Linked DNA regions of Homo sapiens: region 2 is linked to region 1. The links come from fine-mapping of genetic effects on gene expression. A gene starts in region 1. The other region holds a variant in brackets. All regions are shown on one strand. Distances are between the middles of the regions. Region 1 holds the start of VAC14 (VAC14 component of PIKFYVE complex). Region 2 holds the start of MTSS2 (MTSS I-BAR domain containing 2).

Region 1 (8,324 bases):
AATCTCTTTTCTTTATAAATTACCCAGTCTCAGGTATTTGTTTATAGCAGAGCAAGAACAGACTAACACAGCACTTTACAACATTAGCTCAAACAACTCTATGCATATTATTATTATGCTCTTTTTACAGATGAAGAAATTGAGGCACAGAGGTTAATTAGCTTGCTCAGGGTCACCTAGCCAGTAAATGGGAGCTTGAACCCCAGTTCCAGAGCCTGCTCTTAAACACCATGCCACGCAGCCTCTCAGGAAATAGGGTATCTTAAAGGGGCAACTTACCTAAGAACAGGACTAAGCACTTTCATTTAGGGAGCACATGAACTGACTCATTTACACTACATAGATAACTGCCAATATTCGGACTCTTCTTTTGTTGGGCATCTGCAGTCTGATTAATGAGAGATTAATTAATAGTCTGTGTTTGCTGAGGGTCACTTTGACCAGGCCAAATGAAGAATATATTAAAACATACAATATCCTATGTGTACCTGACACATAGAAAGTGCTCAGACAAGCAAAATGCTGGTGCTGGTGAAGCACAGATAAGTAAGTCAGTATCTATCTCTAAGCAATTTGTGAAGCATATGTTCTGAGGAAGGCATTGAACTAACCAGCCATTCTTCATTCTAAGCATGACTGGAGAAGGTTGGAAACAGATGAGAGGGTCTTTGAGGCCAGTGCTTCTCAAACTTTAATGTGCACACAAATCACCCAGGGATCTTGTTAAAATGCAGATTCTGATTCCATAGGTCTGGAGCAAAGCTGCAGAGCCTCTAACAAGCTCCCAGGTGATCCTGATGCTGCTGTCTGTAGGCCACGCTTTTGGGCAGCAAGGTCCTGAGCCTGCAATGTTATTTCCCCACCGAAAATGTACGGTCATTCATTTATTCGGACACCAGCTGTCAAGTGCTGCCAGGCTAAGTGCTAAGGATAAATAAAACAGATACATAAACAGAACTCTCTGCTCTTAAGGAGTTCACAGTCAAGGCACTGCTGAGTTTCTCTAAATTCCACAAATCAAGGGCAATGTCCAATACAAAATGAACTCGATCAAAGACAAAACCCTTACAGAACTGTGTGCAGAGTGAGAACAGATACACAGGTTGCGCTGGAAGCAACAATAATGTTGAGATGAATACCTCTCTCTTCAAGGACTCAACAGACGACTCAAGCTACAATAAAACCGGATATTCCTGAGAAGCAGAGTGGGTGAGGGACAAAACTAGGTGTCAAGGCAACTTCAAAGCCAACAAAACCCCATGGACACGGAACCATGCCTATATATCATTTCTGGGTCCCTCTATTCAGTATGGCAATGTGCAATAAGACTTGCTAGCATTCGTGAGAGTCAGGCATAAACAAAAAGCTATATAAAAGGAGCAGTCAAGAAAGTGGTGTCTGATGAGAGAAGCAGCTAGATGGTTGTGGACATACTGAGTATGAGAGCTGAATGGAGGCAGGGTGGGGGATTTCTTATCAAGGTCCGAACCCTTTAGTTTAGGAGGAAACTAAAATCCAAAGCAACATTTGATTTGGATTGCAAGCAGCAGTTGTCAACCGGGGCAATTTTGCTCCTTCAGGGGACATTTAGCAATGTCTGAAGACATTTTTGATTGTTACAACGGATGGAGTGCTACTGGCATCCAGTGGGAAGAGGTCAGAGACGCTGTTAAAAATCCTGCAAGGCACAGGACAGCCCACTACAACCAAAAATCATCTGCCCCAAAATGTGAATGGTGCAGAGGCTGAGAAACCCTGAGTTAAGGAATTTGCCCCAGGTTAACGAATGAATGTCACACCACGGAATAGATTAGAGCAGTCCAATAGAGCATTCTGCAATGATGGAAACAGTCTATAATCTGTGCTGCCCTATATAGCAGCCAATAGCTACATGTGGCTATTGAACACTTGAAATACGGGTAGTGTGACTGAGAAACTAAAGTTTAATCTTTAATAATTTAAATTTATAATAGCTACGCACGGCCAACGGCTACTCTACTGGACAGAACAGAAATACAATTCACCTTTTCTGACTCGCAGACTGGTATTCTTCCAGTTTCACAGCCTGCTTCTTTCCAATTTTCTGAAATCACTCACTCACTTGACTTTAACACTAAAATGTGACTGGGAAAAAACCCACAAAAGTAAAATAATACTGCAGAAAAAAAAATAAATAAAACATCCCCAGTTAAACTTTCGCTGTTTTGTACATTGGGAAATAAAGTAAAATATCAGATCATTGTTACACATACATGTAACAAGACTGCAGAAGCAAGAAAGGTCAAATTATTTCTACTTCCACTTGCAGGGAAGGGTGTTATAACACAGATAAAACAAAAAACTCTCTGAGCCTTGAGATCACGAGTTTTCCGACCTGATTTCTCTACTTGGTCACTAACAATCTCCTTCACTTCTCAGAAGCTGGGTAAGAAACCAGGCTGGTCAGCATCACCTGCAAATTCTCCGGCTTCTGACTTCTCTCTCACCACAGAGACAACTCTCTGATTTGCTGGTTTGGGTGGCACCGCACCGAAGACTCACCATGTGCCATGCACTGTGCAAAGCACTACCCATACATGATGTCACTTCATTCTCACTGCAGCCCTTTGTGGCACCGGGAGGTTAAAAAGCTGGGACCAAATCACACAGCCAGTCAGGAGTAAAGCAGGGACTCCCAGATATGGCTCCCAATCTGCTCTTAAACACTGCGCTAAGGTAAGGGCCTAAAACCTGGGAAAGTAACCCTGGCTGGGAAGGCGTGAGAAGTCCCCCTGGGGAGCAGAGCAGTCAGGGGCTGCATAGCCAGGGAGGGGTCCTGGCGGCTCTTACTTCTCGATCTCCAGCGCTGCCACCTTCCGCTTTTCGTACAGCTTGTCATTGAGGGCGCGCACGATGTTAGGCGTGAGCGGCGCGAAATCCTTCTCGGGGTTCATGGTGGCAGCTGGGGGAACCTCGCGACTCCTTAGCCCGCGGCTGCCGGGGCCGCGCCGGGGCCAGGGGAGTCTGCGGCTCCGCTCTGCCCCCGGCGCCGGCGCATGGACCACGCCGCTCTAGGCTTGCCTGCCACGCTCCGCCGCCTCGCCCTGGAACCCGGGCCCGGACCCCGCTCCAGCACACCTGACCCTGGCCGCTTAACAACTCCCGCCCGGCACTAGCGGGACTCACGAGACAGCGGCCATGTTACTCGAGTCACATGACTCTACAGCACTTCCGCCTTCCGTCGCGAGGGCCCGCCCCTCTCCAGCCACGCCCCCACCGCAGGCCGCAGGTGGATTGGCCACGCCCTCGGAAGGCTCCACCCACACTGCACACACTATCGCGCTGCGCGCCAGGTAGCTGGAGTGTGGTTTGAGACGTGCTTTAATGGGTGTGTAGCTCACGCCCAACTGATGGCACGTGGTGGGCTTCTGTAGACGTTCGTAAGACCGAATGGGTTCTTGGAGTCTGATTCACTTAACATAATTTATTCAATAGTCACCGAATTCACTAGTTCATTCAGTAGTTGGTCACTTACCAATTTCCTAGATGCAGACGTTTCCCTAACTGCAGTAACACTGTCATCACTTTCACCATATTCTAGCCACTTGTATTATCTATTTAATGTTTTCCTCAAATCAACTCACTTTAAAAAATACCTTAAATCTCTTTTAGCTTTGCTTATGCCCTAAAACCATGAGTTTGAATAGGTATATTTTTTCTAAGACACATCAAAATAAATTCTCAATTAAAAATGGCACTACCTGTCTACCACCTAAGATCTCAGGTACCACCAGTGTCTGTCACTCCACCATTTGGGGGTGTGTTTAACATGCTCTGATGCCTAGGAGGGCTGGTTACAGACAGAGAGAAAGGCCCCAGATCTGCTGAGTGCGGGTCTCTAGATAGGTCCCCTGGAAAGCAGCCCCTTCAGCTGCTTCGGGAATCACATTACATGGTGAGACAGAAATCCCAACTATGTGGCAAAATATTTAAAAGCAATTTATGGCCGGAGTGTGGTAAACATGCAGTTAACAGGGAGGTGCATCAGCCTTTCCTATCATAAGCTTTCAGAGTGAACAGGGACTTAGGACAAGGGCTAGATTACAGTGGAGCTCAAAGAATAACAGTTTCAGAATGCATGGTGATACTTTTCTTTAATGAATGAAAAGTGCATATATAGGCCTTATAACAGTCTTGAAAATGGAGTATTTTCCTCAACAGAAACAGGGACGCAATGAGTAAAGGGCAAAAGTAGGCAGAATTCTAGGATGACCTCCAATATTCCCACCCCTTCGTGTTCATGCCCTGTATTATGCCCTCTTTCAGCGTGAACAAGACTTGTAAATATGATGGGCTATGCATCACTCACATGATTATATTATGTAATATCGCAGAAGAGATTTTGCAGATGTAATTAAGGTCCCTAATCAGCAGACATTGAATTAATAAAAAGAGAGATTAACTTGAGTCGGCCTGACCGAATCAAGTGAGTACTTAAAAGAGATTAGAAGAAATTTGAACTGGAAGAGAGACTCTCCTGTAAGGAGTTTAGTCATATGGCCACAAAGGAATGAATTTTGCCAACACATTGAGGGTCCTTGGAAGCAGATCTTTCCCTAGTTGAGCCTCCTGATGAGGATGCAGCTGGCCAGCACCTTGATTTCAGCCTTGTGGAACCCTGAGCTGAGAATCCAGTTCACACTGGGCTCTCAACCCATGGAAACTGTGAGATAATAAATTTGTGTTGTTTTGCTCTCCTAGTTTTGTGGTAATTTGTTATGCAGCCATAGAAAATGAATACAAAGGCTAATCCAAAACTCGGCAAGTCATGGATATATCATGTCTAGAAAAATCCATAAAAAATGTATTCTCCTATACAGGTGGGGTTTTCATAGTTGTTAAAACCTTTGCTGACACAATCCTATGAATGAAGGTAGGTGCGCTAACAAGTAGTAGTAGTGCTGCCAAGGACATCTCCAAATGTCTTGCAAAGTTTGGTTTTAGGATTTTGATGATGGTTGATGAAAAACACTGAAAAAATGTAAATCAATGGGAATGATTTGGTTCTATTTCTCCAATGTGTGTGCATTTCCACGGGACGCATATCTAATATATTTCATGTTTCTTTTGCTTTTTGGTTTGGCTTTTTCTTAGAGGTGAACTGAATTTCCCAAGGGTAATGATACAGTTTTTAATAATTCAAACAATAAGGAATTTTTTTTTTACCAGAAGTATTCTTTTCTCCTGAAATTATATTCTGGCTCAGGTTGCTAAGTAACCAGTTTTTTATTCAAGGCCCAGACCAATGCCTACCTTTAGGTCAGAAGTTCCTAGAAAGAAGTGGTTCTTTTCTCTAATATCTTGAAAAATGCCAACTAGGTAAGATTATTTATGCATAATTGAGCTAGCAGTGGTGGTAAAAATAAAGCCCAAAGGCTACCCTTGCCTTCCACCCTTGTTCCTCTTCTCTGACCTGTGACCATTCCTGTTGAAACTCTTCTAGACTAGGGGATAACTGATGTGCCTGACTGCATACTAGTCATTATTTCACAGTTACAATTCATCTGCATCTGTGTGATGCTTGGTTGTTATGCTAGAACTTGTAATAGTTCTGTAACAACTATTCATAATAGCTATTACAAGTATGTAAAAGTTATGACATAACTTGTAGCAAGAGGCTGCTGATGACATTGTAAGAAATTGTACCAAAATCTTGAACTGTGCAAAGCAGTTTCTCCAACAGCAATGTAATTGTAGCTGGAGTTTCAGGGCAACAGGGTTTAAGGTATTAGGTAGAGGTCTTGAAATGTAGCAGGCCCTCACCAATGTTACAGTATTGTCACCTCTGACTTGAGGCTCCTAAAGAAGTGGTTAGACTTAGCATGCCACACTCACTGGGGGCCCAGTGTGGAACGAGGCCAGGGAGCCCCATTCCCATGGTATTCTGTGCACAGTGCTCCTTGGAGTTCTGCCACACAGCTACCCTGACATTTTCTGAACATCCCCCAGTTAGAAGTCTCCTGGTCTGCTTTGCTGAGAATGGATTCTCCAATGTAACTTCCACAAGCATGTGTTGGAAGGGTTATTTTCATCAAGCCTGCTGTTAAGCTACTTTGCCATTCCAAATTTGCTAATATAAGACTATTTTGTTATTGTTTGAGGCTAAGGAAGCACGAGAAAAACCTAAAGGGAAGAAATGCACCCAATCTCAAACCAGCCTGGAAGAGGGTTCACACTGGGGCAGGATCTGAGCTTGGCTCTTGGTCCCAGGGAGAAGGAACTTCCTCCTCTCTCAGGGGCTAGGAGGATTTGGACCCTAGACTCAGTGGTGTTATAGGACCAACACGTTTGTGTGCCCACTGTGCAGTAACAGACCAATGCACAGAGACAGTGGGGATGCAGCAGAGAAAGTGATGATCAAAGGTCACTGAGTGATGAGATGGGAGGAGACCCTCAAATCCATCTCCCGGAAGAGTTCTGGACTGGGGTTTTTAAGGGGATCCTGGAGGGTGAAGGGCTGAAAAACCAGGTGACTGATTGGTTGGGTAAGACGGATGAAATCATCAGGATGTGGAAACCGCATTCTTTGGTGAATCAGCTTCTCGTGAGGTCCTTCAGATCAGCTGATGTCAGTTGTTTCACTGGTACACAGGACCAAGAATAAATATCTCAAACGGAAAACTTAACGTTTCCTAATGTTCAAGTTGTTATCTCCAGAGCATTGAGGGGAACTATGATCTTTAGCAGGGTCTACGTGATTCTGAAACAGCAGGCACCAAACAGCTATGAGGAAGCAGGTCTGAGCGCAGGCTGATCTAGTGATTAATGCTGAGTGTGCTGCAACCTGGGTTCGTTTTTGTTTCTCCCCCTCCCTTCTCCCTGATCACTTTTATAAAATGTATATGGACAGCTTCAGTGGCTTGGGGAAGCACTGGAACAGGTCTGAAGTTGGGGGAGTTGCCCCTAGCCACCCCAAGGCTGGCTATAAGCCATGCTGGGGCTGGTGGCATGTTAGACAAGATTTCAGACAGCTTCTTCCACCTTTTCTTTAGTCTTAGGGATCACTTGGTGTACCACATTGACCATTATTGAAAAAGTACACCCTTTTGAAGAGTAGGGTGAGGGACCAATTGCTTCCCTTCTCCTAACCTATACCTCTGGTGAATAGGTGGAAGGAGGCACATTTTGGGGAGGGTTAATTTCATCAACTAGGTCCTATGCAGATTTGGTAAGACTTCTCAGGACTGTAATGAAAGAGTTATGGCTGTGGGTTTGGCAAATGTCAAGTTTTGCCAGGTACCTTAAAGTAGCACTCTCAGCTGCAATGTGCATGCAAATCGCCTGGAGGTCCATGAAAATGCAGATTCTGATTCAACAAGTCTAGGGTGGGGCCTGAGGGCCTGCCTTTCTAACAAATTCCCAGGTGATGCTGATGCTGCAGGTCCATAGGCCACTCCGAATAACCAGGAGGCTCGAGGCTTTAGAGTCGTGGTTCTCACAGTCTGATTGGTCTCACCAACGAGCATCACCAAGAACTGGTTAGAAATGCAGATTCTCAAGCCCCACCCAAATCTCCTAGATCGGACTTCCTGAGGGTGGGGCTCAGCAATCTGTTTCAGTAAGCCCTCCAGGGGATGCTGATGTATACTAATATTTCAGAAGCACTGACTTTATACAGATGCTGTATATTTGCAAGTCATCACTCTTGCTCATTGATCTTAGCATCCTCTCAGATTATTGGTCAGAGCGATCTTTGCTCACTTAACCATTGTGAAAATCTGTCATCTGGTTGTCTTTAGACCTATCAGTAGTGTCTTTAGAGGTTATAGAAATAAATTGTCTATTGAGTATGGCAGTCCTCCTCATCTATGGCTTCAGTTACCTGTGGTCAACTGTGGAATGAAAATATTTAATGAAAAATTCCAGAAATAAAAAATTCATACTTTTTAAATGGCATGCTGTTCTGAATAACTTGAGGAAATCTCATGCCATCCCACTCCATCCTGCTCAGGATGTGAATCATCCCCTCGTCTAGCGTATGCATGCTGTAGACACAACCTACTTGATAGTCACTGAGTAGATGACTTGGGGTTAGCAGGTCAACTGTCATGGGATCGCAATGCTTGTGTTCAAGGAAACCTTATTTAGTTTAATAATGGCCCCAAAGCACATGGGTAGTGATGCTGGCATATTATTATAATTATTACATTTTATTATTATTATTGTTAATGTCTTACTGTGCCTAATTTATAAATTAATCAAAGGTATGTATGTAAAGGAAAATACCACAGTATATGGAGTGTTCAGTACTATCTGTGGTTTCAGGCATCTACTGGGCACCTTGG
Region 2 (8,324 bases), 110 kb before region 1:
CCAGGAGGAAAAATGGGGGCTGAGGTCAGGGGAAGGGTCCAATAGTCTCCTTAGTGACCTTGAGCCATTTCCAGGCCTCAGTTTCCCCACCTGGTGGGGTGAGGAATGAATGGGTGGTTGGATCCAGCCTGACCTTAAGCAATCCTGGGAGACAAGGAGGGCTCGGAGCTGAGAGCCCAGGGTGGTAATGGGGTAGGAAAAGCGCTTCCTTGGGGTTGCTCCACCGACCCCAACCTTCATCCCGCCTCCTCCCAAGGTGATGATCAAGGCCTATCCTTGGGATGCAGGGACATTCAGCCTGGAGACCTTGGAGTCCTGGAGCTTCCTGGGGCTGTGGGGGTGGGGCGGGGCTGGGGGACGCAGTCTCACGGTCGGGTGCAGAGGCCTAGGTCGGCGGGGAAGGAGTTAACGGTTCTCCGCTTTATTATTTTTTCCTGCTTTGGCGGTGACAGCATTGTCTGGGCTCCGGGGCCGTGGGGGAACATGGTGGTGGAAGGGGGCGGAGGCCGGTAAGACCCCGGACTCGTTAAAGGGCCCTAGAGTCGGTCCTGGATCCAAACCCCATTCATGGTTTGGCGGTCTGGGGCGCAGGGAGCCTGCGTGTGCACAGGCTCGGGTCAGGACCCCACGGGGCCACCGCGGGCACCGCACGGACACCCCGACACACGAGCACCCACACCCCCAGACGGGCACCCGGAGACACGGGCGCCCAGCAGACGCAGGCAGGACGCGCTCAGACAAGGACACACAGACACCGCGGCGCGCGGCCACACGAGGCTCGGCCACCCGCCGCCACGCGTCCCCGGGGGGTCCCGCACCCGTCGCCGCGCGCCCGGCCCCGCCGCGCCCCGGTTACCTTCATGTCGTTGACTATGGCCTGGAAGAGCCCGCCCAGGGCGCCGCACTCCTTCTCCGCCGTCTCCATGCTCTGGCTGGGCCGGGCCGCGGCGGCGGCTAGGCGCACGGAGCGCGGGGAGCAGCGCAAGGGAGGGGGCCAGGCCGCGCGGGCGCTCGCTCCGAGGCCGGGCCGGGCCTCCCGCCTCCAGGCTGCGCTCAGCGGCCGGCCGCGCCGCGCTCCGGGGTCGCGGGCCTCCGGCGGGCGGCGCGGGCCATGTCGCAGCGGGGCTGGCGGGCGGCGCGGGGGGCGCGGCGCGGGCAGCTCGCGGCGCAGCCTCGGCGCGGGGACTGACGGCGGCGGTAATCCGAGCCGCCGAGGATCGGGCGTCACGTGGGCGCGGCGGAGGGGGGACCGCGAGGAGGGAGGGAAGGAGGGCGGGCCGCGCGGGAGGGGGCTGTGGGAACGGCCGCGCGGGCGCAGGCCCATTCACGGCCAGAAACCAGGGCTTTGAAATCCGAGCCCGGGCGCTGCCAGACTGGTCCGGCGAGCGGGGCCGACGGGCGCGGGCGCCACCGAGGGTCGGGGGGCGGCGCTGGGCGGGGCCCGCCCTGCCCACGCAGGAGCGGGACTGGCGGTTGGGCCTCGGCCCCCGGGCAGGGGCTCCACGATATCTTCTGGCCTTTGGTCTGGGGCGGGGGGCTTCTCGCGCTTCTAAAGACAGGCAGTGGGTACAGTGGCGGGATGGGGTCGGTGCATGGGCTGGATGGGTGGCATACACCGCACACAGCAGGGCGCGGGGTATCGTGGAGCCGCCCGCCTTGGGACGTTTCATCGCAGGCACAGACCTTCCTCAAGTTCGGACCCTTCCAAGTTCCTTGGCTCCTTCTCCAAGTGGTGCCGATGCCACCCGGATGGGGTGCCCAAGGCTGGGCATTTGGGGGGCAGTGGTAGTCTCCTGGGCCTTGAACAACCTCCTTCTTCGCGGGTGGGGGCTAATGTCGGACCTGCAGAGCAGAGCTGGAGTGTCCTTGGTCTCTGCTGCCTGAGTCCACGGTGGGTGCGATGCACACACGTGCATGGGGTAGCAATGTCAATCGCAGCCTGTCCTGGAGACTCCAGGCAGGGAAACCCACCCTGGGGGGCAGCACGATGGGGGAGCGCACTCTGGGGAAGAGCAGGCACAAGCTCCTTCTCGCCTACTCCATGGGCCGGAGGGAGCCAATTACAAGCTCATTAGGAGACCAAGCCCAGGGTTCCCAAAGCCTGGGGACAGGTGGTACCACTCCCGGTGAGGAAGGGCTTTCAGCTGCAGCAGTGGTTGGGGCACCTGCCCCTCCCTGGACTGCTCTGGGCTTTTCCTCCCCTTGCCCCGAGATCTGCAAAGTGTTCTGCAGTGTGCATTGCCCTTTCATCCAGGAACTCCTGGGGCTCAGCTCCCATGTCCCCAGTGGGGAACTCCCATTGCCCCAGGGAGTCAGGATGAGAAAGGCAGATTGGGGAAGGCAGGGTTCAGGATTCCAGGGCAGGCAGTGCATGGTGCTCTCCAGGAGGGTGCAGGTTCCAGAGGTGGGGACCTAGGCTCTAGGCCCATGGCTCCACTCAGGTGAGTGCAGGGACCAGGCCCTGGGGCAGCCAGTACTCCTTGGGGCCATCATGAAACCCGATCTCCAGGACAGAGGGTGAGGCCCCCGGACAGCTGCACGTGTCAGCTGGGAAGGAGCAGGCCGGCTCGGGTTGAGGGTTTTCTGTTATTTCTTTATTGGGGTGGGGGTGGGGTGCATCATTCAGATCTTTGTGCTGGTGCCTACGTGCATACAAGTACACACACACACACACACACACAGGCATGTGTTCACGTATGTATACATATACACACAAGGCCAGAGCTCTAGTGTGCTGGAGGAGGGGCAAGCTCTTTTTCCAAGAGGGTATTAGAAAGAGGTTGATTCCAGAGGATGAGTGGTCTCTGAGGCTATAGCCCCCCACTGGGTGGGCAGCCAGCTCTGTGAGAATGCCAGGGTGCAGCTGACAGCGCTGGAGGCCTGGGGACTGGACTCTGAGAGGAGCTTGGGCAGACACAGCAGCCTCCGGCCCCAACACTGCCCTGGGTTGGCAGGCCCAGCCCTGGTCCTGACAGGCAGGTCCTTGAGCTCCTCGGGAGGGCGTGACGACCCTTAGTGTTTCATGGGACCACTCGGTGGGCCCTCCTCCGTGCCAGGCCTGTCAGAGGACAACCCTCCGGTCCAGGTGGTCCCCACGCCCGCTCCGCTGGTGCCGCACTTCCAGGTGCTTGTTCTGGACCTTCTCAAAGTGCTGCAGCAGCTCTGCGTAGTCGATGCTAGGGGAGTCAGCTTTCTGGGACTTGGGGGCTGCCTTTAGACTGTCTCTGGGAAGAGGGAGCAGAAATGCTCAGTGTCAGGGATCAGCTCACAGGGGGGTTACTGCTGGAGGGCAGTGGGGTCAGAGGCAGAGCCACAGGCTGGTGGGCTCGGCCTGTGGGCGTCTGTCTCAGGCCTGGCAACTCTTCCGTCATGGCGGGCCCCAGAGCTGGGAAGCCCCTGAGCATCCCCCTCTTCCGCAGTTGGTGGGAACAGCTAACACTGCTGCTTGGCTATTGCCCTCGGCCTGTGGGCTGGCGATGGCGCCCAGAGCAGGCATCGCATTGGGAAGCATTTCCTGTTTACGAGTGGCTCCCTTTGGGGTGAAAGCCAGGGCTAGCAGCCAGCCAGGAAGCCAGCTGGGGCCTGGAACAGGGTCTGGGGAGAAGGGGGAGGTGGCAGCTTGGCCCTTTCTCTGAGAGGCAGGGCTAGGACTGGGGAAAATGGGAATTGCTGAAGAGCCTCTGCCGGGCCCTCCACTTGGCAGGACATTTGTTTTTGAGTGTTGGGGCCCCAAGGCCTGCAGTCACTCACTGTCCCTGGGAGGAGGAATGCCGGTCTCACCACTGGACATGCCTACAGCTCCTACATTCCTGTTGCTGCCACCCTCTCCAGTTGCTCTGTACAGCAACACAGGTTGTGCACTGCACAGCTAGTGTGCATGATGCTCCCTATAATGGTGCAATGCGGTAGCCTTGCTGTCCCTGTCAAGCCCAGTGCTTAGCTTGCCCCTGGCGATGAGATCCCCTTGGGCTCCTGTCCTGTTCCTACTCACCCTCCAGCAGTGTCTCATGAAATGTTCTGCTCCCTCCCTTTGGCCTCACTGGTTTGGAGGAGCAGATCCATGTGGGCTAGGAAGTATCTGTTTCCAGGCCCTGAGGCCTGGTGGACCTGGGAAGGGGTCTCAGGAAGACTGTGGGCTGCTCAGCTAAGCAGAGAGTCTTGGGGCCCTTCAAGTTTATGAAAAGATGCCAATCGGCGGGGCCGGGAAGGGGGGTGCAGGCACTGGCAGAGCACAGGATCTAGACAGACCTGGACCCAACCATAACTCCACCGCTTCCTAGCGGTGTGACTTGAGCATGTGACTGTTTCCTCATCTGCAAAGCGAGGGCTACCTAAGGAGCGGCCCTGGGGTGGCTGCCAAGATGCCTTGACACGATGTGTAAGAGCTTCACCTGGTATCCAGCCCCAGCTTAGGTATCTGGCAGGTGCCACTGTGGCTACAGTTCTGCCCCTCCAACGTGAGGCCAGCCGGGGCCCAGCAGCTTGAGGGTGGAAATAAAGGAGGCCATTTTGGGGGAGACAAAAAGGAGCTCCCCCAAAACGAACTCTTGGCCATGAGTTCAGTCCAGCAGGAAGAGTCAACGGCCAGAGCCTGACAGTTGCTTCAGGTGGCCACCAGCCTGCTGGGCAGGACCAGGGCAGGGGGACTCTTCCCACAGTTGAGATGCCATCTGGGGCCCGGAGGCGGCCTCCTGCACCCCTGCTCAGCTCTGCCTGCCCACACCTGTTCCCTTCCCGCCTCCCTGCTGAAGATGCACCACCAGAAAACATCTTGGACATGTCTACGGCTGCGGCTGCTGCTTTTCTGGGCCTGGCGCTCCTGGCTCCCTAGCGGGGCTCAGCTGACTTTAGTTCAACAAAGATCAAAAGCAGCTGGGCGGGGCCATTCTAGAGGGCCAGGCTGTGGGCAGTGTTCTAGGCTGTGGTTGCTACTGGGAAGGGACCTCCCAGGCACAGTAACCTTGGGAACCAGGTGCCACTGCTCCAAGAGAGCAGCTTGGACTTCTAAGGAGGCCAAGGGCCACCCCGGAGCTTGCAGCCCTAAGTCCAGGGTGTGGCCAGACGCTCCTCTAACCCACTTAGGCCAAGGCCACAGGTGTGACCCTAAAGTGTGTCTTCTGATGCTGGGCACCCACAGGTCTGTGCGTTGCTCCCC[A/G]TGACACTCCTGGCAAGCCAAGGCCTTAGGTTAGGGGAGCTTAGGGGCCTTTAGAGAGATGCTCTCAGCACTGGATGGCAAACCCGGGAAGATGGCGTCGGTGTGGCAGGGTTGGTCGGGGTGGGAAGAGTGGGCCACATCTGCTCCCTGGGCCCTTAGGGTGGCAAGAAGTCCTGCTCCCTGTGATGGGCAGACCCTTCCTGGCCTGAGATCTTGGGAGCAGGGCGGGCTGTGTCACCGGGGGTGGGTGACACTGCCTGGGCTGCTGAGCACAGAGGCCAGGCCCGCTCTCCCTGCCCCACCTAATGCAGATGGCTGCTCTCAGGCCCTGCACATCTTCTGTAGGTCCATAACCACCCTCGGGCACCGAGGCTGAGGCCAGCCAGCCCACAGCACAGTGTGGCAAGTCCAGGACTCAGGGCCGGCTCTCACTCTTGCCATCCCACCCATGCACCTGTTGCCAGCTTTTTCTTAGAGGTTCCCTCCTGCCTTACTGAGGAGACAGTCACTGGGGAGTGGCCCAGAAGCCAGGGGGTGGGGGAGCTGAGGTCCCCAGGGCCTTGATGGCACTTGGAGCACACAGAACCAGGGATGGGCGAGGAGTGTACAAAACTCTCCCAGCTGTTCCCAGCTCCAAGGCCTGCCCCGCAACTCGACCCTGTCTGCCAGCTGTCTGCCCCTCCCAGGGCTGGGACTGTCCTCAGCTCCCTTCCCAGGGTGTGAGCCGTCCTCTGGGCCCCACCCTGCAATCTGACCCCTCCCCCAGCTGTTCTGAAGTCCCCTGGCATGCCCACTGCTTCTGTGCCCCTATCTATGGTATCTCTTCCTAGGTCGTTGCAAAGTAAGGCTGGGGGTCCAGGGCATTGAAGGCTAGGGGGTGTCTCACACACCCATTTAGTCCAAATGTGCATTTACTGACCAAGTAACCAAGAACCCAGAGAGGGCACTGGGCTTGCTGGAGGTCACACAACAAATCCATGGCAGAGCTCACACCAGATCCTACTCTAGGCCTGCAAAGCATCCACTGACCCTCAGAATCTTCTACCCAGAGGCCTCAACCCCTTGGCTCAAGACTTCCCTGACTGACCGTGGGAGATTCTGAGGAAAGCCTCATTTTCCCAGCTTCCCTCTGCAAACTTGTTCTACCCTGGTTTGAGGAGTCTGACTGCTCTGAGCCTCTGCTCCCCTCCCAAGACGAGGAGATCAGCACTCGGAGACCCGGGAGAGGCTGGGCTGGCTCCCTGGCCAGGAGGACTCCCAGGAAGGCAGGCTGGTTCCCACAGGGAGACTGGAGGTCACAGGGAAGCAGCCCTTCCTGCCTCCTCCCTGCTTCCGGCTGCACCTTCCCCTCCTGGGTGCCTGCCAGGTTGACCCTAACACTATGGGGCGTTGAAGGGCCAAGGCAAAGGCTGGGCCAGCAAGGCCCGGTGTGGCTTCTAGGCCTCTCTCGGAGTCTCTCGGGAGCTGACAGCACTCCGGCCCCAGGAACCCACACATGCGCCCCCGCTCCATGGCTGACCCTGCTCCCCTGGGGACACTGCATCAGGTGCTGTCTTCTGGGGACCACCTGGCAGCACCCTGAGCAGCTGGGGTGGCAACCGGCTCAAGGCCTAGTCCTGCCACTGCAGGGCACTGCCTTCTGGGGAAATGGGGCAGGGAAGGCACGAGCCGGTCTTGGTTGGGGCCACACTTTCTAGGGGTTCAGCCTCTCCAGCTGGCCTGGGGCAGAGAGCCTATCAGGTGCCCCACACTCAGCCATCCGAGGGCCAGTCTGGGTGGGAGGGGCAGTGGGAGCCGATGCCAGCGGTGTGGAGGGCACAGGGCCTCCGGGCAGGCCTGTCTCAAGGCTGCCTGTGTCCATCGCAAAGGCGAGCACCCGAGGCCCTTTGCTGGAGCAAGGCGCCAGGCCTGCTGAGTGGCTCTAACAGCCTGGGAGGGAATTCTAGACACACAGGGCATCTGATGCAAGCTGGGCGCGCTCCATTCAGCGTAAATCTTCTCAGTGGCTCTGCTGGTTTCCATGGCGACCTGACAAGTGAAATTTTCCATCTCGGATGCCAAATGCCTGTGGATGAGGCAAAGCCTCCAAGGGTTACCAAATATAGATGCAGCCCTACAGGCTCTGGGGTAGGGGCCAGCCGTGGGTTCAGGGTGGGAGCCGGCACTCCTCTGACCAGAGGCTGCCAAGCTGGGCCTCTTGGTGGAGGGGTGCCTAGGACCTGTTCCTTCCATGGGCAGGACCTGAGCAGGGGAGCCTTGAGTGTACCCCTGCCTCCCACCCCACCCCGGAAGTGGCTGAGAAGGTCCTAGCAATGATGGGGTCTCCCAGTGACCCAGGGTTGAGCCTCTGCCACAGACAGGGTGGGGAGGGGCTATGTGAGGCCTGGGAGGTGCCCAGCACAGACAGCCACTGGGGCCCCCATCTCTAAGCTGGGGCAGGAACTCCTCCCCCTGCCCGGTGTTTCTCTCCAGGGTCCTCTGTCTGGGTAACTCCAGATGCCCTCAGAGTTTTTAGATTTTGCATAGCCTCACTGAGCTGGACCCTGATTGCCTGGAAGTGTTGCTACTCCCGGCCACCGTGTGAGGGCTCCCAGAATCCCTTGCTCGGTGCTCTGATGTGGACACAAGAGGCCAAGGGGCAAGTGGCTGCGGGGGGGATGGTGGTCACAGTGACAAAAGGGGTGGGATGCTGAAGTGAGGGAGGCCTCAGCAGCCCCTGGCAAGGCCCTTCCTCACCAGGCTCCTCTGGGCCTGTCCCTGCTCAGGGGGCGGGGGCAGCAGTCCCCAGCCGGCACTCACTCGGTCTGCAGCAGCTCAGGGTTGGGCACGCACTGGAGCCGGTGCGAGAGCAGCTGGAAGGCGCTGCTCTGCGGCAGGAGCATGAGCAGGCCGTAGAGGGCCTTGATCAGGTAGGGGTTGTTCTTCACGTCCAGCAGCTGCAGGCGCAGATCTGGGGTAGGCAGAGGGCAGGGGTCAGGGACCTGGCACTGCTCTGGGACACGCCCAGCCCACACTGCCTGCCTCCGACTGGCCAGGACCACCTGGGACTTGGTGCCATGGCACCCACAGCCCAAGGACCCAGCTGTGTGGACCCAGCCAGGTGGCTGTGGCTTCCAGCGAGTCAGGGGCTCCTTCACAGCCAGTCGCGCTGCCCCCACCTCCCCCAGGA

The links. PIP is the estimated chance that this variant, and not a neighbour inherited with it, causes the effect.
Region 2: its variant is fine-mapped to the expression of VAC14 in whole blood (TOPMed, PIP above 0.99).

The regions. Positions count from the first base shown.
Region 1 is chr16:70,797,968-70,806,291 of GRCh38, forward strand. VAC14 (VAC14 component of PIKFYVE complex) reads right to left here and starts at 3,191. Exons shown (of 19, transcript NM_018052.5): 1 at 2,830-3,191. The coding sequence starts at 2,933. HYDIN (HYDIN axonemal central pair apparatus protein) reads right to left here. Exons shown (of 86, transcript NM_001270974.2): 86 at 4,117-8,324. RefSeq lists enhancers at 2,877-3,499, 3,167-3,226 and a silencer at 2,897-3,086.
Region 2 is chr16:70,684,867-70,693,190 of GRCh38, forward strand. It overlaps MTSS2 (MTSS I-BAR domain containing 2), which reads right to left and starts at 1,187. Exons shown (of 15, transcript NM_138383.3): 1 at 857-1,187. The coding sequence starts at 925. It overlaps VAC14 (VAC14 component of PIKFYVE complex), which reads right to left. Exons shown (of 19, transcript NM_018052.5): 18 at 7,955-8,105; 19 at 2,573-3,224. The coding sequence ends at 3,062. RefSeq lists enhancers at 2,715-3,221, 7,320-8,147, 8,148-8,324. The variant A/G (reference allele first, on the strand shown) is at 5,156.